2 linked regions of the Homo sapiens genome follow. The protein of the gene in region 2 interacts with the protein of the main gene of each other region in a biochemical or structural test. Each region holds a gene or a part of one and is shown on either strand. Other genes may lie near its edges.

Evidence for each region. Proteins that work in one complex are often made in the same cells at the same time.
Region 1: of the proteins of RRAD (region 2) and PRKACA, one has a biochemical effect on the other in vitro, tested with the Homo sapiens proteins (2 studies listed by BioGRID).

Annotation. Positions count from the first base shown.
Region 1 is NC_000019.10:14,092,755-14,100,762, forward strand, and holds part of PRKACA (cAMP-dependent protein kinase catalytic subunit alpha), read right to left. Parts: intron 5,137-8,008; coding exon 5,010-5,136; intron 4,921-5,009; coding exon 4,825-4,920; intron 4,730-4,824; coding exon 4,607-4,729; intron 1,039-4,606; coding exon 874-1,038; intron 484-873; coding exon 358-483; 3' UTR 1-357.
Region 2 is NC_000016.10:66,921,434-66,931,422, reverse strand, and holds RRAD (GTP-binding protein RAD), read left to right. Parts: upstream 1-5,887; 5' UTR 5,888-6,014; intron 6,015-6,219; exon of another isoform or gene 6,220-6,228; 5' UTR 6,229-6,243; coding exon 6,244-6,613; intron 6,614-7,503; coding exon 7,504-7,577; intron 7,578-7,702; coding exon 7,703-7,907; intron 7,908-9,069; coding exon 9,070-9,347; 3' UTR 9,348-9,738; downstream 9,739-9,989. UniProt on the Homo sapiens protein: May regulate basal voltage-dependent L-type Ca(2+) currents and be required for beta-adrenergic augmentation of Ca(2+) influx in cardiomyocytes, thereby regulating increases in heart rate and contractile force.

The sequences.
Region 1 (8,008 bases), on a different chromosome or scaffold from region 2:
CCATACCCTGTCCCTGGATACACCAGCAAGACCTGGTCTGACTGGAGTTGAGAAACTCGTTTAAAACAGGCAGAAGTGGGCTGGGAGGGCTGAGGGGCTGGGGGGCTGTGGGGAAAGAGGAAGGGAAAAGTGGGAGAGGGGGCAGGAGGGTGAAGGGGATGAGGGGGAGCAGCTGGTGTTTCTGTCCCTCTGATTATCTGGGCTTCCTGCTCCCCCTAACCCTGGAGGGTGGGGTGGGGGTGAAATTAGATGCAAGGAACTCTGGGGCCCTCTGGCTGTTCAATCCAACCCTCCCACCCCCCCGACCAAAAAAAAGAAAAAAGAAAAAAGAAAACCCATGGGGGCACAGGCATGCCCCTAAAACTCAGAAAACTCCTTGCCACACTTCTCATTGATGGAGACCCGGATTTCTTCTTCCTCATAGTCGTCAAAGTTACTCGTATCCCCAGGGCCTTTAAACTTTGGTATGAAGGGAGCTTCCACCTGGAGAGGGATCAAGAATCACCCAGACCTCAGCATTCAACATAATCATTATTACAACAATAAATGCGAATGGCCTAACATTCAAGAGATATTTACTCTGACTCAGGCCTGTGCTTACCATTAGGTTATGGATTCCTCTTAACAGCCCGAAACTCTTAATGTAGCAACTCATCAAAGGGGAAATTACTTCCCAGAGAGAGGCATCTGTTGCACAAGGTCATGGAATGGCCAAATGACCCCAGAATCCCATTTCTAGACCCCACTGCTCTAAGCTCTCTACTCTAGGTTGCTCCTGAACCTGTGTTCTCTTCTCTATTTCTCTATTGGCTGTCCTCCCTGACTCTTGGCCTGCTCCCAAACCCTCAGCAGGCTTAAGGAGGGGAGGCCCACCTTCCTCTGGTAGATGGCAATCCAGTCAGTTGTGGCAAACCACTTGTGGTTCTTGATATCGTTGACCCCATTCTTGAGGTTCCCAAAGCGCTTGGTGAGATCTACCTGCAGGAGGTTCCGCAGCAGGTCCTTCAAGTCAGAGCTGAAGTGGGAAGGGAAGCGCACCTGGAGGAAGGGGTACAAGGACAGGGTGGGAAGCTGGTCTGGAACTTGGGAAGCCCATGATGCTTCTTTCTCCATCCAACGGTCCTACTGGGTGTGGGCCTCCAAAGCAGAGTGCCTGCCAGCATCTTGTAAAACAGCTCCTTGAGCCTACCCTACAGTTTCCAATTTAGGAAGTCTGATACTGTGGCCTGAGAATCTGCATTTCTTTAAAAACTTTAAAAATTCAAGAGTTAGTTATTTTAAGAAGTTTTTGTAGAGACAGGGTCTCACTACGTTGCCCAGGCTGGTCTTGAACTTCTAGGCTCAAGCGATCCTCCTGCTTTGGCCTCCCAAAGTGCTAGGATTATAGGCGTGAGCCACCACACCCAGCAAGAATCTGCATTTCTTTTTTTGAAAAAAAAAAAAAAAAAAAAAAAAAAATAGCCTCACTCTGTAGCCCAGGCTGGAGTGCAGTGGTGCGATCTGGGCTCACTGCAACCTCCGCCTCCTGGGTTCAAGGAATTCTCCTGTCTCAGCCTCCTGAGTAGCTGGGATTACAGGCTCACGCCAAGACACCTGGCTAATTTTTGTATTTTTAGTAGAGACGGGGTTTCACCATATTGGTCAGGCTGGTCTTGAACTCTTGACCTTAGGTGATCCACCTGCCTTGGCCTCCCAAAGTGTTGGGATTACAGGTGTGAGCCACCGTGCCTGGCCCAAGAATCTGCATTTCTAACAAATTCCCCAGCAATGGTGCTGCTGGAAAGGGGTCCCTTTTAAGAACCATTGCTCTAAGGCAAGTGCTATGATGATTTCCATTTCAGAGAAGGGGAAACTGAGGCTTGGGTTAAACAGCTCTTCCTAGGTCACATTGAGGTGTGTGATGGGGCAATTCCATCTCAGGTCTACTGGACTCTAGAACTTGCATTCTCAGCTGCTGCTGCTGCTGCTTAAGGCATCTCTGCTGGGGTCTGGAGACTTCTGAAATATTCTTGCTTATGACAAACTTTTTCTCTCCTCTCTTTCTGCATAGCTAAGGCTCTTCCGTTCTTTAAAGCCCAGCTCAACTCTTCTTGAAAGTTTTCCCCAAACCCTCTGAGCCCACGCCTTGTATGCAAGTCATCACTGGAGTTATAGTTGCAAGAAACGACTTCTTGTTCCTGCTGTGCCTCTTACACGCTGTGTGACCTTGGCCATGGCCCTTAACCTCTCTGGGCCTGCGCATGCCTCTCAGATGTGGGGCAGATATGCCAGGGCTGCACGAGGGAGATAATACCACTGACGGTGCGGGGGAACTAGAAAATGCTACAAAGAAGGGAGTCATGTGCATCTTCTCCTGTGGGATCTTCTGTGTTTTTTTCTTTCTTTTTTTTCCCACTCTGGGACATTTTTTTTTCTTTTTTTCTTTTTTTTTTTTGAGATGGAGTCTTGCTCTGTTGCCCAGGCTGGAGTGCAGTGGCACAATCTCAGCTCACTGCAACCTCTGCCTCCCGGTTTCAAGTGATTCTCCTGCCTCAGACTCCTGAGTAGCTGGGATTACAGGTGTGTGCCACCATATCCGGCTAATTTTTGTATTTTTAGTAGAGACGGGGTTTCACCATGTTGGTCAGGCTGGTCTTAAACTCCTGACCTCGTGATCCGCCCGCCTCGGCCTCCCAAAGTGCTGGGATTACAGGCGTGAGCCACCACACCCGGCCAACTCTGGGCCATTTTCTTGGCAGTTTCTTTTGGTCCGGTGGCAGATGCCTCATCTTTCCCTTTTTTTGAGACAGAGTCTTGCTCTGTCACCCAGGCTGAAGTGCAGTGGCGCAATCTCGGCTCACTACAACCTCTGTCTCCCGGGTTCAAGCAGTTCTCTGCCTCAGCCTCCCGAGTAGCTGGGATTACAGGCACCCGCCACCACGCCCAGCTAATTTTTGTATTTTTAGTAGAGACAGGGTTTCACCATGTTAGCCAGGCTGGTCTTGAACTCCTGACCTCGTGATCCACCTGCCTTGGCCTCCCAAAATGCTGGGATTATAGGTGTGAGCCACCGCGCCTGGCCTTCATCTTTCTCTTTTAGTGATGCTATGTGTCCAGCTGGGGCACCCCACTTGCCTGAATTTTTTTAAAAGACAGGGTCTGGCTCTGTGACCCAGGCTAGACTGCAGTGATGCAATCACAGCTCACAGCTCACTTCTGGGCTCAAGCGATCCTCCTGCCTCACCCTCCCGATGAGCTGGGAACACAGGGGTGCACCATCACGCCCAGCTAATTTTTAGTTTTTTTTTTTTTTTTTTTTTTTTGAGACAGAGTCCTGCCCTGTTGCCCAGGCTGGAGTACAATGGTGTGATCTTGGCTCACTGCAACCTCCGCCTCCTGGGTTCAAGTGATTCTCCTGCCTCAGCCTCCCAAGTAGCTGGGATTACAGGCGCCCACCACTATACCCAGCTAATTTTTTTTGTGTGTGTTTTTAGTAGAGACGGAGTTTCACCATGTTAGTCAGGCTGGTCTCGAACTCCCGACCTCAGGTGATCTGCCCGCCTTGGCTTCCCACAGTGCTGGGATTACAGGTGTAAGCCACCGCGCCCGGCCAGTTTGTTTTTTTTTTTTTTTTTTTAGAGATGGGGTCTGGCTATGTTGCCCAGGCTGGTCTGGAACTCCTGGCCTCAAGCCTCCACTTCCCAAGGTGCTGGCATTACAGGTGTGAGCCATTGTACCCAGCCCCAAAGTTTCAAAGCCAGTCGGTGGCAGAGCTGGGACTGGGGCCCAGGCTGAGCCTGAGGGTGCTCCCACCACAGTGTCATGACTCCGGGCCAACCAAAAGCTCCTGTGTAGGAGATGCTGGACCAAGTCGGGGGATGGTCGGGTCTTCCCAGCAAGGTGGTTGAGCTGAGGGCAGAGGTGGGGTCCCCAACCTCTCTCCGGCCATCAGTGCCTACAATGATTGCCTACGGTGATTACCTACTCACCAAAGTGTGATCTTGGCCAAGACACATCCCTTTTCCCAGCCTGTTTCCTCACCTCTCCTACAGAGGGTGCCACTATCTCAGGGTGTGACTGATGGGGATTCTGGGGCCTGGTGGATGGTGGGCACTTTGCACCTGTCATAGATGTGAGCTGAGATGGCTTCACCACCCCTCATCTGAACCCTCAGAGTTAGGCAAGTCTGGGTTTGGGAGAGGAAGCATGGGCTATAAATGCTAAGTGAGGGCAATCCTGGGTGAGGCTATGGACAGCACCTGGGAACAGGAACCAAATACATTCGTTTTTCTGCCTTGGAATTTGCGAAAACTCACACTAACTGGGATGAGGAGCGAAAAGGAGGGTCGTCTGGCAGGGCGGTTTGTGTTCTGTGGCCAAGATGTTCCCGTGAGGCTCGGGATTTTGGAAGCCCATGGGATTCTGGAACCGCGGGGTTGGGGCTGGACAGCAAGGGGGCTTGAGGTGTTGGCCTCAGTGTGGCCGGCGCGTCCAGCTTCACCACCTGGCCTGACTTAAGGAACTTCTAGATTATTCTGACAACAAGCAGGGCTCCCCAGGGAATAGGATGGGTGAGCAGGGAACGGTCTGTTTCTTCCAGGGCTGTGTCCCCACATCCGGACCTCACCTTCCCAGAGACGATCTTCTCATAGATCTGGATGGGCTGGTCTGCGAAGAAGGGCGGGTAGCCAGCGGCCATTTCATAGATAAGAACCCCCAGGGCCCACCAGTCCACGGCCTTGTTGTAGCCCTGGAGCAAGATGGGGGGGCACAGGGTGAGGAGGAGGCGAGAGCAGGAGAGCAGAGCCGGCCTCAGGGGAAGGGGAGGGCTGGGGAGGCTCCTACTTTGCTCAGGATAATCTCAGGGGCCAGGTACTCAGGGGTGCCGCACAAGGTCCAAGTGCGGCCCTTCACGCGCTTGGCGAAACCGAAGTCTGTCACCTGTGGGCACAAGAACAGGCAGTTGGCAGGGAGGAAGGGTCCAGGCCACGGCTTCCCCAGGGCTGCCCCTCGCCCGGCCTGGTGGGCACCTGAATGTAGCCCTGCTGGTCAATGAGCAGATTCTCCGGCTTCAGGTCCCTGTAGATGAGATCCAGCGAGTGCAGATACTCAAAGGTCAGGACGATCTGGGCCGCGTAGAAACGGGCATGGGGCTCACTGATGGGGACAAATGGGGAGGTGAACGTCAGTGGTCATGCCCCAAAATGGTCCAGCAGGTGGCCCTGCAGAGCCTACCCCAGAGGAAGACACCTCCAGTCCAGCCGTCAGAAACGCAAGGCACCTGATTCTTAGATAGCCCGACATGGGAAACAGCCTGTGGGTCCATCCACAGGAAAATGGAATCACAGACTGAGCTATAGTCATACAATGGAATTCCACTCACCACCACCACCGCCAACAGGACAGCCCATGCATCCACTCAACAATGTGGCTGCATTTCAAACTGATTATGTTAAGCAAAAGAAGACACAAAAGAACATGAATGATTCCATTTATATCATGTCCACGCCCAGACAAAACAAAGGCACGGTGTTTGAAGTCAGAAAGGACAACTGCCTTTGGTGGGGAGGTGACGTGTCAAGAGAGGGATTCGGCCCGGTGCGGTGGCTCACCCCTGTAATCCCAGCATTTTGGGGGGTCGAGGTGGGAAGATCGCTTGAGCCCAGGAGTTCGAGACCAGCCTGGGCAATATAGGCAAGACCTCACCTCTGTATGTATGTAGATATGTGTGTGTGTGTGTATATATATATATATATTTTTTTTTGATTAATTTATTTTTTTTAAGACAGTCTCGCTCTCTTGCCCAGGCTGGAGTGCAATGGCATAATCTCGGCTCACTGCAACCTTTGCCTCCTGGAAACAAGTGATTCTCTTGCCTCAGCCTCCTGAGTAGCTGGGATTACAGGTGTGCACCACCACGCCCGGCTAATTTTTATATTTTTAGTAGAGACGGGGTTTCACCATGTTGGTCAGGCTGGTCTCGAACTCCTGACCTTGTGATTCGCCCGCCTCGGCCTCCCAAAGTGCTGGGATTACAGGCGTGAGCCATGGCACCCGGCCTCCACCTCTGTATGTTATTGGAAAAAAAAAAAAAAAAAAAAGGGATTCAAGGGAATTTTCTTAGGTGATAGAAAAGTTCCATATACTGTTTTGGGTGGAGGTTAGGTAGCTATATACAACTGTCAAAACTTGTAGCATGGAACATTGAAGAACTGTGCATTTTGTTGTATGTAAAGTGAATCTATAGTTATCTATCTAAAATACAACTACAAGGCCAGCGCGGTGGCCCATGCCTGTAATCCCAGCATCTTGAGAGGCCAAGGCGGGGGGGGCGGATCACCTGAGGTCAGGAGTTCGAGACCAGCCTGGCCAACATGGTGAAACCCCATCTCTACTAAAAATACAAAAATTAGCCAGGCAAGGGGGCATGCACCTGTAGTCCCAGCTACTTGGGAGGCTGAGACAAGAGAATCACTTGAACCCGGGAGGCAGAGTTTGCATGGAGCCGAGATCGTGCCACTGCACTCCAGCCTGGGTGACAAGAGTGAAACTCTGTCTCAAAAAATAAAATCAAATAAAACTACGTATGTAAACTTATAAGTTAATAAGACAAATTTATAAGTTAAAAATTTTTTTTTTCTTTCAGCAGGGTCTGACTGGGTTACAACCCAGTCTGGACTGCAGCAGCGTGATCACGGCTTATGCAGTCTTTTTTTTTTTTTGCATATGTTGAACCAGCCTTGCATCCTAGGGATGAAGGTGGGCTCATGCAGTCTTGACCTCCCAGACTCAGGTGATCTTCCCACCTCAGCCTCCCCAGGAGCTGGGACTACAGGAATGTGCCACCACACCTGACTTTTTTTTTTTTTTTTTGTATTTTTTTGTAGAGATGGGGTCTTGCTATGTAAGGCTGGTCTCAAATTCCTGGGCTCTAGCAATCTGCCCACCTTGGCCTCCCCAAGTGGGATTATAGGGCATGAGCCACAGTACCCAGCCTGTATCTTAAACTTACAAATTTCTGTATATAGATTTATTTTATGTATAAAAATATATATTAAAATCTACACATATAAAACTGTCCACCTATATAAAATAAAATAATAGTATAATTTTTATTTTATTTTTTTGAGACGGAGTCTCGCTCTGTCACCCAGGCTGGAAGTGCAGTGGCGCGATCTCGGCTCACTGCAAACTCCGCCTCCCGGGTTCACGCCATTCTGCCTCAGCCTCCCGAGTAGCTGGGACTATAGGCGCCCGCCATCACACCCGGCTAATTTTTTTGTATTTTTTTAGTAGAGACGGGGTTTCACCATGTTAACCAGGATGGTCTTGATCTCCTGACCTCGTGATCCGCCCGCCTCGGCCTCCCAAAGTTCTAGGATTACAGGCACGAGCCACTGCGCCCAGCCAATTTTTTTTTTTTAAAAGAGACAAAACCTCACTATGCAGCCCAGGCTGGTCTCAAATTCTTGAGCTCAAATGATCTTCTCACCTCAGCCTCAGGACTAGTGGGACTACAGATGCATGCCACCTTTTGGGGCTCAAAAAATGCACAAAATCAACAACTTCAATTTTTTTTTTTGAGACGGCATGTCACTCTCTCACCCAGGCTGGAGTACAGTGGTGTGATCTTGGCTCACTGCAACCTCTGTCTCCTGGGTTCAAGTGATTCTCCTGCCTCAGCCTCCCAAGTAGCTGGGATTACAGGTGCCCACCACCATGCCCAGCTCAGTTTTGTATTTTTAGTGGAGACAGGGTTTTGCCATGTTGGCCAGGCTGGTCTCAAACTCCTGACCTCAGGTGATCTGCCCACCTTGGCCTCCCAAAGTGCTGGGATTACTGGTGAGAACCACCGTGCCTGGCAGCAACTTCAGTTTGGACACCTAAGTTGCCCTGTTTGCTCTGTTTTGTTTTGTGGTGGTTGAAATATCACATATTCCTCAGCAGAGGGGAAACAGAAACCCACAGGGTCTGGGAGACCACCTGCATGTTGAAGTATGCTGGACTCCTCTGCATTCCCAGGGGGCTT
Region 2 (9,989 bases):
TCTGCAGCCTTGACCTCCTGGGCTCAAGCGATCCTCCCACTTCAGCCTCCCGAATAGTTGGGACTACAGGCATGCACCACCGTGCCTGGCTAATTTTTAATTTTCTTGTAGAGACAGGGTCTCCTAGGTTGCCCAGGCCGGACTCTAGCTCCTGGGCTTAAGTGATCTTCCTGCCTCATCCTCCCAAAATGTTGGGATTACAGGTATGAGCCACCCCAACCAGCCCAATCAAAAGAATATTTATTTATTTATTTATTTATTTATTTTTATTTTTTATTTTTGGGGGTAGAGATGAGGCCTTGCCGTGTTGCCCAGCCTGGTCTCAAATTCTTGTCCTCAAGCAGTTCTCTCACCTGGTCCGCCAAAGCACTGGGATTACAGGCTTGAGTATCACACCTAGCTGTTTTTCAGTTTTTTTAATTCAAAAAAACATTTTGTTAAGAGGTAGTGTATTGCTCTGTCACCCAGGCTGGAGTGCAGTGATGTGATCAGAGCTCACTGTAGCCTCAACCTCCTAAGCCCAAGTGATCCTCTTGCCTCAGTCTCCCGAGTAGCTGGGACTACAGGCGTGTGCTACCATGCCAGGCTAATTTTTTAATTTTTTGTAGAGACTGGGTCTCCCTATGTTGCCTAAGCTGGTCTTAAACTCCCAGGCTCAAGCCCCACAACCTGCTGGGATTACAGGTGTGAACACCACGCCCAGCCCTTTGTCTTTTTTCACAGTGATTGTTTGGAAAAGTTCAGAGAAGTCCCAGTTCTGCAGTCTGATTTGTTCCTGATTTGTGTTGCCTTTAACTGGAAATTGGTCTAAAGGCCTCAGTGAGTCCAGGTTTGCGCTTTTTGATGAAAACCCTGCCCAGGAGTGGCATATATATTTTATAAGCCCACTAGTAGGTGTGTGATGCCAGCTTTTCCAGCTGTTAGTGATGGCCGTCTGGTCCCTGATAAGGGCAGTGACATCAGACTTCTCTGTTGAAGGGAACCTGAGGCACCCTCTCAATCAGCCCTCCCAAAGGCATGTGTCACCCCCAGTGTTGAGTAAGAGGGAAGCTCAGCACTGTGAAGTGACGTGCTCGGGTCTAAGGCCTCTGCCTCCCCTTGGCCCTATGCCCAGATTGCATTTGGTCACCTGGACAGACTGTAGGGCTTAGACCTTGGCTTAGCTGGTTAGGATCACTTTCCCAGGGGGAGCATCCTTCCTGCTTTAGTCTCATTCTCTGAAGATAAATGGCAATATTAAGAAGCAGTGCCCAACCCCACCTCATCCCTACTGAGGCCCAGATATGATTGTGGGCAGAGAAGCCTCAGTAGGGATCCTGGCCATTTTGCAGATCTGTTCTTGAGGGCCTGCTGACAGCATTGAGCCTATCCTAAGAGTGGAATTCAGTCGAGGGCTTTACACTTACTATCTAGTCAGTTCTCCATCCAGCCCTATGCAGCAATTGCTATCCTCTCTCTCTCTTTTTTTTTTTTTTTTTTGAGACACAGAATCTCGCTATGTTGCCCAGGCTGGAGTACTGTGGCTATCCGTAGGTATGATTATAGCACACTACAGCCTTGAATGCCTGGGTTCCAGGGATTCTCTTGCCTCAGCCTCCTGAATTCTTGGGACTGCAGGCATGTGCCATCACACCTCGCTTGCTATTCTTTATCCCCAATTTTCGGACAGGAAATGGGCTTCTAGAATAAATGTAGTCAGACCTCCATTATCCATGCGTTCTACATCCATGGGTACAACCCGCTGTGGATCGAAAATGTAGTTAGGCCTAGGATGACTGTGTCTGTACTGGACATGTACAAACTTTTTTTCTTGTTGTTATTCCCTAAACAATGCAGTCTAACAACAACTTACATAGCATTTACATTGTATTAGGTATTACAGTAGTAATCCGGAGATGACTTAAAATATATGGAAGAATGTGCAGAGGTTAAATGCAGATACTGTGCCATTTTATATAAGAGACTTGATCTCAGCCACTGAAGTTGAGTTTAAAAAACAAAGTAAAAAAATATATGTAAAGGAGTTAAGTATTCATGGATTTTGGGATTCATGGGGATCCTGGAGCCAATCCCCTGTGGATACCAAGGGACAACTCTAATTTACTTCTCAAGACATCTAGCCGGGCACGGTGGCTCACACTTGTAATCCCAGCATTTTGGGAGGCTGATGTGAGGATCGCCTGAGCCCAGCATTTTGAGGCAAGCCTGGGCAACATAGCAAGACCCTGTCTCTAAAATAAAATGTGTGTGTGTATTTAGTGGGGAATGGTGGTGCATGCCTGTGGTTCCAGCTACTCGGGAGGCGGAGGTGGGAGGATCGCTTGAGCCCAGGAGGTTGAGGCTGCAGTGAGCTATGATTGTGCCACTGCACTCCGTCCTGGGTGACAGAGCAACACCCTGTCTCAAAAAAAAAAAAAAACTTACAGCTAGGGAGTAAAGGAGGCCCTGAGCAGCTTGATAGGTGCTGTGCAGCTGGCAGGGGGCGCCGTTGCCTACAGAAGGGGCTAAGCCCATCCTGAACCCCAACTCCTATTGCTCCCACTCAGCTCACTCTTAGGAGGGAGTGGCCTCGCCACCTAATGACCAAGAGGAGGTGCTGGATCTGGCTACCTAAGATCAGAGAGGTGAAGCCATCAGCCCCTATTGCCCAGAGCTTCTTCATCTGTGAGGGGGATAGTCATGGCAACCACTTGGGACTGCCCTTGGGAGATTTAAATGGGTCTAGGCCTAGCTCTGATGATCTAGGCACTGTATCCCGCACAGATGAGGAAGCTGAGGGCTCCAGAGAGGCAGAGTGAACAGCTGAGCCCCAGGGAGCCTTCCCGAGCTGAAGGCCTCACACCCTACGACGTGTGTACCTTCTGCCGGACAGTCCCTGTCTGAGGTGGCCATGGTGTCTGTGTTGAGCTGGGGATGAAGGGAGTCATGGGGGCGGCAGGTGTGATTGAGTCATTTGGCTGGCCTTCCTGGCAGCCAGGCCATGGTGGGTGAGGGACACCAAACTGCTCATGCCACAGCTGACATATCAGATAGTTCTCTTGTCACTCTTGACTCATCAGTGCCTGGCCCCTGGCTGCCTGCAGGGCCACCATCTGTGCATCCTGGGCCAGTGCCCAGGGAACTTTCTGGAACCCCAGATGCTATCTGAGGACACAAGGGTACAGGGGATGGTGAAGTTTGAGGTTCCTGAAACCCTCCACCAGGTATGTCTGGCTCTGCTGTTTCTGGCCTGTGACTCCTCAGGCTTTGGTTACCATGTCTACAAAATGGGAACAACAAATCATAGCTGAGTTTGACCCAGGGATTAGATGACATGTATGAACATGCCCGGCCATGTCTATTTTTGCTCATCATCCTGCCCCCAGCACAAGGGCCTGGCACACAGTAGGTATTTAGTACAGGACCGCGGAATGAATGAATGCATTGGGCCTTAGAACACAGCAGAGGCTCTGGGGCCTGAAGGCTGTGGTGTGAGGAGGGGGTGGGGACACTGAAGCCCAGCCCAGTTCCCTCTGCAGCATCTTGTCACCTGAGGGACGGGGAAGAGTGTGGGGTCCTACAGAGAGGAGACATGGGTATGGGGCTAGGGGAGAGGTATCTGCATTGTTCCTGAGACCTCTGCCCCACTCCTGGACAGACCACCATCCTGGAGAGAGTGGAGCAGAAACAGGAGAGGGACCACAAATTCACCTAACCTGCCCCATCCAACGAAGGATGATCATGATAAACGTGCTCTTAGTGAGATATTACTGTGTGCCCGACTTGAGCCAACTACTGTGCCTCTGCATTTCATGTTTGTTTTGTCTTATAATAACCATCAGGAAGAGGTGATCCCTGTTCTACACTGGAGAAACTGAGGCTCAGCCTAGATAAATGGACACAGGTGAAACAGCTAGCAAGGAGCACAGCTGGGATCTGAAGCCCGGGCGGACCTAGGAGTGGTTCTAGCCTCAGTTTATTCCTCCTGGGCAGCCATGCTCAGCCCAGAGAGCTGGGAGAACCAGGTGGTGGGAGTGGGGGTGTCTCAAGGTTGTGTCCTGGTGTTAATCCCTGGGGCCCCTGGCCATATCTAGCTTGTGGTGAGTGTCTCTGGCCTGTTGGAGCAGCCACTGGAATGCCTGGGGCTTGAGTGGCCCTTTGTGGTTGCAGTTCCCTTGGCAATGAAGAAACACTGCTGAGGTCAAGAGCTCAGATTGCCAGAGGGGAAACCCAGCCCTCCTTCTTTGCATGGCCCCCTGCTGGGAAGGGCCACAGCTACCCCCCACCCTCGCCCTCTGCCAGACACCCAGAGGAGGCTCTTTCCAGTGGCACAGTCATGGGGTTGGAGGGGGCACAGGCAGCCCAGCCAGGATTCCTCATGGGAAGTGTGTGGTGGCTCTTTAGACTTGCCTGCTAACGGGAGGCTCTGCCCATAACTTCCTCTTCCCACTGGAGTTCGTTCAGGAAGCCAGAACCAGCATGGGGATGCTCAGGCCTCCAAGATCCCCTAGGACCATGGGCAGGCCACCCCTCAGCCCAGCTTTTGCCTACTTTGAAGACCTCAAGGACAAGAGGGCCCTAATCTTACCGAGCCAGGCCCTCCTCAATCCAAGGCCTTCTTAGGCGTTGCCAAGGAAACTGATGCAGCAGCCAAAGAGCCTGGCCCAGGTCTCCATGACAACCTACCACAGCCCACCAGGGTCCATCCATCTGTGATGTCACCTGAGCCCCAAATGGATGCCCTCCCACCCCCACCACACTTGTCACAATCAGATGTCACAGTCTGATAGCAGGTCCCTGTCACAAAATACCTCACAGCCTGACCTGCAACCCTCAGACCCCTGAGAGATGAGCAGGGAGCTAAGACACTCCTCATGCCTTGACCACACCCTGTGTTTATGCCCCTTTTGGGTGGGGGCCTGAACCTCCAGGCCCTGGATGTGCCCTGGGTGGCTGGCTCAGCCTACAGCTAGAGGGAAGAAGGGAGACCTTGACGACTCGAAGTGGCTGGCTCCTGCTGGCATTCAACACCCATTGGCCTGGATTTCCCCAACTCTGGGCAACTTCCAGTCCAGGAGCAGAATAACCAGAGCCACGGCCAGGGCCAGGGCTGGGGCAGATTATTTATTTTTAGCAGAGTTGCTGGCAGCTGCCTGGTGGGTGCTGGGAGGTGGGATGGGGACTGAGTTTAATCCCTTCCCTCTTCTGGGCTGGGGTATCCTCCCCAGGGTTCAAGCAGGCATCTCCACCTGCAACTCTGTCAGAGCTGCCCCCACCCCCAACAGCCCTCTCAGGGCCCCCAGGGGCTCATGGGGTGACACCAACCCTCACACTGAAGGTTAGGCTCATTAGGGAGAATCTTCAACTCCAGGATGGGGAGTGGAAAGGATTTTGTGTGAATTTAGGACACCCCCTAAATTCTAGCTCAGACCTGAGCCTATGGGGAGTGGGTGTCATGGGCAGAGAAGGGGGATCTCTGTCCAGCCTGTAACTAGCTTACTTGCTAAAAGGACGAGCCGGGACTTGGGGAGAGGAAAGGGAGAATTCAGTCTCACGGGGCCAGACCGAATTCTTCTCCAGAGGGCAGTTGCTGCTTTTGGCTGATTGGGTTTACCCCGCTGCCTGCCTCCCCATCACGTACTCCCCCCGCAACCTCGCTCTCTCTCTCCTTCTCACACACACCCTCAGCTCCGGACCTCGCCTACCGGTCAGCCCCTCTATTCCCAGACAGCTACCGCTACTCCCCTGGCGGGTAGGGCGGGGTGTCGGGGATGTAAGGTCCGAGGAAGAGGGTGGGGGATTCCCCTGGTGGGGGTGGACAGACACGTCAGCCCCCGCAGCAGCGTGGACCGGGGGCGGGAGCGGGGGCGGGTGGAGGCTTAAATAGGCGGCTCTGGAGCCAGAGCCCAGTGCGGGCTGAGAAGGCGGTGGCTGCAGCAGCAGCGGCGGCGGAAACCCTAAAGTCCGAGTCCGGACTACGAGTGCGTGGCCTCCTAATCCGGATCCTAGTCCTGAGCGTGTCTGTGTGCGAGTGGGTGAGTGTCCTGGCGGAGCGGGGTCGGGGCGGCTGCAGATGGATGCGCCAGGTCCGGAGGGGTCCCGGGTGAGGGCGCCGCGACCTGGGGGCTGGGGGAGGGCTGCGGCGGGACCTCGGCCGGAGCATCCCGCCTGACTCCGGGTTGGGCAGGTGCGCCCCGGGTCCCGCCTCCCTCGCGGCTTACACGGCCACTCGGGTTCCTGATCCCCTAGACGGTCCCGGACGCGATGACCCTGAACGGCGGCGGCAGCGGAGCGGGCGGGAGCCGCGGTGGGGGCCAGGAGCGCGAGCGCCGTCGGGGCAGCACACCCTGGGGCCCCGCCCCGCCGCTGCACCGCCGCAGCATGCCGGTGGACGAGCGCGACCTGCAGGCGGCGCTGACCCCGGGTGCCCTGACGGCGGCCGCGGCCGGGACGGGGACCCAGGGTCCCAGGCTGGACTGGCCCGAGGACTCCGAGGACTCGCTCAGCTCAGGGGGCAGCGACTCAGACGAGAGCGTTTACAAGGTGCTGCTGCTGGGGGCGCCCGGCGTGGGCAAGAGCGCCCTGGCGCGCATCTTCGGCGGTGTGGAGGACGGGCCTGAAGCAGAGGCAGCAGGTGAGGGGACCCAGCTGTTCAGGGGAGGGGCGATCCCGGGGCTAGGACTAGGGGCTGAGACCGGTACTCAAAGCCGCAAATACCGTGGAATTATAGTTGTTGTTGTTGTTATTATTATTATTATTATTATTTTATTATTATTTTGAGACAGAGTTTCGCTCTTTTTCCCAGGCTGGAGTGCAGTGGCCTCGATCTAGGCTCACTGCAACCTCCGCCTTCAGGTTTCAAGGGATTCTCCTGCCTCAGCCTCCAGAGTAGCTAGGATTACAGGCGCCTGCTACCACGCCCGGCTAATATTTGTGTTTTTAGTAGAGTTGGGGTTTCACCATGTTGGCCAGGCTGGTCTGGAATTTCTGACCTCGTGATCCGCCCACCTTGGCTTCCCAAAGTGCTGGGATTACAGGCGTGAGCCACCGCACCTGGCCAATACTGTGGAATTCTATTGGCGCTTTCAGAATCATGCCTCTACCTACCCACTTCATAAATGGGGAAAGGAAAGGAGAAGGGACACCCCCCAGCCTTTGGTAGGGAAGAAATGCCCAGAGTAGAAGGCCAGGGCATAGATATGGCTACTCTGTGGGATGGGACTGGACATCCCTCCCTGCCTATCAGGGACAGGTCAGAGTTTCTAACCAGAGGGATTTCTAAGAGAGGAGCCCTAGGTGGCCAAGGTCCCCAGGGGGGGCATGTGGGTGGAGGTCAGGCACACCATGCCCTCCAGCCCCCACTTCCCTGCCTGGCACTGCTGTTGCCACATACCAGCATCTGCAAGTGGAGTGGAGGGTAAGGAGGGCTCTGGGGAAGAGTTGGAGGGTGTGGCCAGAACAGGAAACCTGGCAGCAGCGGCTTTGACAACCAGCTGGTAACCTGTCTACTGGCCTTCTGCCTAGGGCACACCTATGATCGCTCCATTGTAGTGGACGGAGAAGAGGCATCACTCATGGTCTACGACATTTGGGAGCAGGTAGGGTGCAAGCAGAGACCCAGGGCAGGGGAGGGAGGAGTGAGTTGGGTTAGAGGTCTGGGAGTGCCAGGCTCGTGTCGGGGGCATGAGGACTGTTGGGCAGATGTGTGTTGTGTGTTCTCCAGGACGGGGGCCGCTGGTTGCCCGGCCACTGCATGGCCATGGGGGATGCCTATGTCATTGTGTACTCAGTGACGGACAAGGGCAGCTTCGAGAAGGCCTCAGAACTGCGGGTCCAGCTGCGGCGTGCACGGCAAACAGATGATGTGCCCATCATCCTCGTGGGCAACAAGAGCGACCTGGTGCGCTCTCGTGAGGTCTCGGTGGATGGTGAGTAGGCGGCAGGTTGCAGGGGGAGGGAGAGCCCAGCTGGGCCCTGATCCAGGCAGTCTTGGCTCAGCTTGAGTCCCTGGGGATCATCAGAGGCTAAAAATGTTCAGAAAGAAAACTGGCGGGGAGGGAAATGGGAGAGAGCTGGTGCCTGCTCACAGGGCTCCGGAAGGCCCCAGAGGGCTGGGGAAAGAACCAAATCTGATAGGGGAGCTGGGCACCGCAGGGCCCTCCTCTCCTGCCCCTCTTGGTCCTGGCCTGGCTGGTTGGGGGGGTAAATGGGTGGAAGAGAGTGTAGGGGAACAGGCCAGGAGGTCAGAGCCTGTGTGCTAGGTCTGGGCCATTCTTAGAGTAGACTTGGCCCTGGGGAAGACCCTTCCCACTTGGCCTCAGCATCCTTTTCTGTGGACCCCAGTACTGAGCCCCTCAGAGGAACCCAGCAGTGACTTGGTGACCTTGCCTCCGCAACCCCAGTCCACTGGATCATTCATCATGATATAACCTCGAATTAAAAAATACTAAGTTGTGCGGGGCATGGGCCAGGGGGTGGCTAACGCCTGTAATCCCAGCACTTTGGGAGGCCGAGGCGGGTGGATCACGAGGTCAGGAGATCGAGACCATCCTGGCTAGCATGGTGAAACCCCATCTCTACTAAAAATACAAAAATTAGCCGGGCGTGGTGGCGGGCGCCTGTAGTCCCAGCTACTCGGGAGGCTGAGGCAGGAGAATGGCGTGAACCCGGGAGGCGGAGCTTTCAGTGAGCAGAGATTGTGCCACTGCACTCCAGCCTGGGAGACAGCGAGACTCTATCTCAGAAAAATAAAATAAAATAAAATAAAATACTAAGTTGTCCAACATAGTTCTCATTTTCCTGTGTTTACTACTGTCGTACTTTGTTTAAATATCAGGCTTCAAATTATTTCAATAAATGGATCTCCTTTTGAGGGCCACTGTTTTGGGGGCTCCTTAAATGCAGGCACTCTGCCTACTGGGTGACGCAGCAGTGCCCAGTACCCTCAGTACAGGAGCTGGGGTCTCTGTGTTTTCGGGGAGGACCTTGCAAATTCTCGAGTGGCAGCTTCCATGGGTGGCCACTGTTGGAGGGGACTCCTCATTCACCCACCCTTTGTTTACTGGTGCCTGCCTTTCCCCACCCACACAGAGGGCCGGGCCTGCGCGGTGGTCTTTGACTGCAAGTTCATTGAGACATCAGCGGCATTGCACCACAATGTCCAGGCGCTGTTTGAAGGTGTCGTGCGCCAGATACGCCTGCGCAGGGACAGCAAAGAAGCCAACGCACGACGGCAAGCAGGCACCCGGAGGCGAGAGAGCCTTGGCAAAAAGGCGAAGCGCTTCTTGGGCCGCATCGTAGCTCGTAACAGCCGCAAGATGGCCTTTCGCGCCAAATCCAAGTCCTGCCACGACCTCTCGGTTCTCTAGGTCCCACCCGCTCCCACTATGGTGGGAGACGAACGGAAGGGTTGGTGGGCTGGCCCAGCCAACTGCCCCGGGTGCCTCAGAGCAGGCTCAGACTCTGGGTCCCTCGGAGCTGCCAGCCGGGCACCCCCAACCTCATGGTCATGGACAGATAGACAGTGCTGCCCTGCGAAGTGGCTCTCAGGGGCCAGTGAGGGCTGGGCCCACAGAGATGCATGCGCAGGCTCATATGCGTCCCAAGCAGCCGCAGCGCAGCCGCCGGGCAGGCCTGCGTGCCGGGAGAGGACTCTGCCTTTTTTCACAGCCCGGGTGTGCCTGCCCTGGAGGGAGGCTCTTCAGTGCGGTAGCTATTTGTTTACATGCAGATTTTTGTAATAAAGGCTATTTCCTGATAGTCATGGCTGTTGACTCTCTTTCCTCCTATCTGGGCGCTTCAGGAGCTGGAAGGATTTCTGAAGTTGAGGGATGGGGGCTCACTGCCCCACCCTAGTGTGTGGCCATGATGTGTTAATGTGAGGGTCCAGATTTAGCCAGCTGGGATGGGCATCGGGTCTGGTTAGAGGTTCAAGGAGCAGGAGACACAAACCCCTCCCAGTCCCTGTTATCCAGATTCTTCTCTTTCTGCACTGGGGCCTGGCGTTGCCC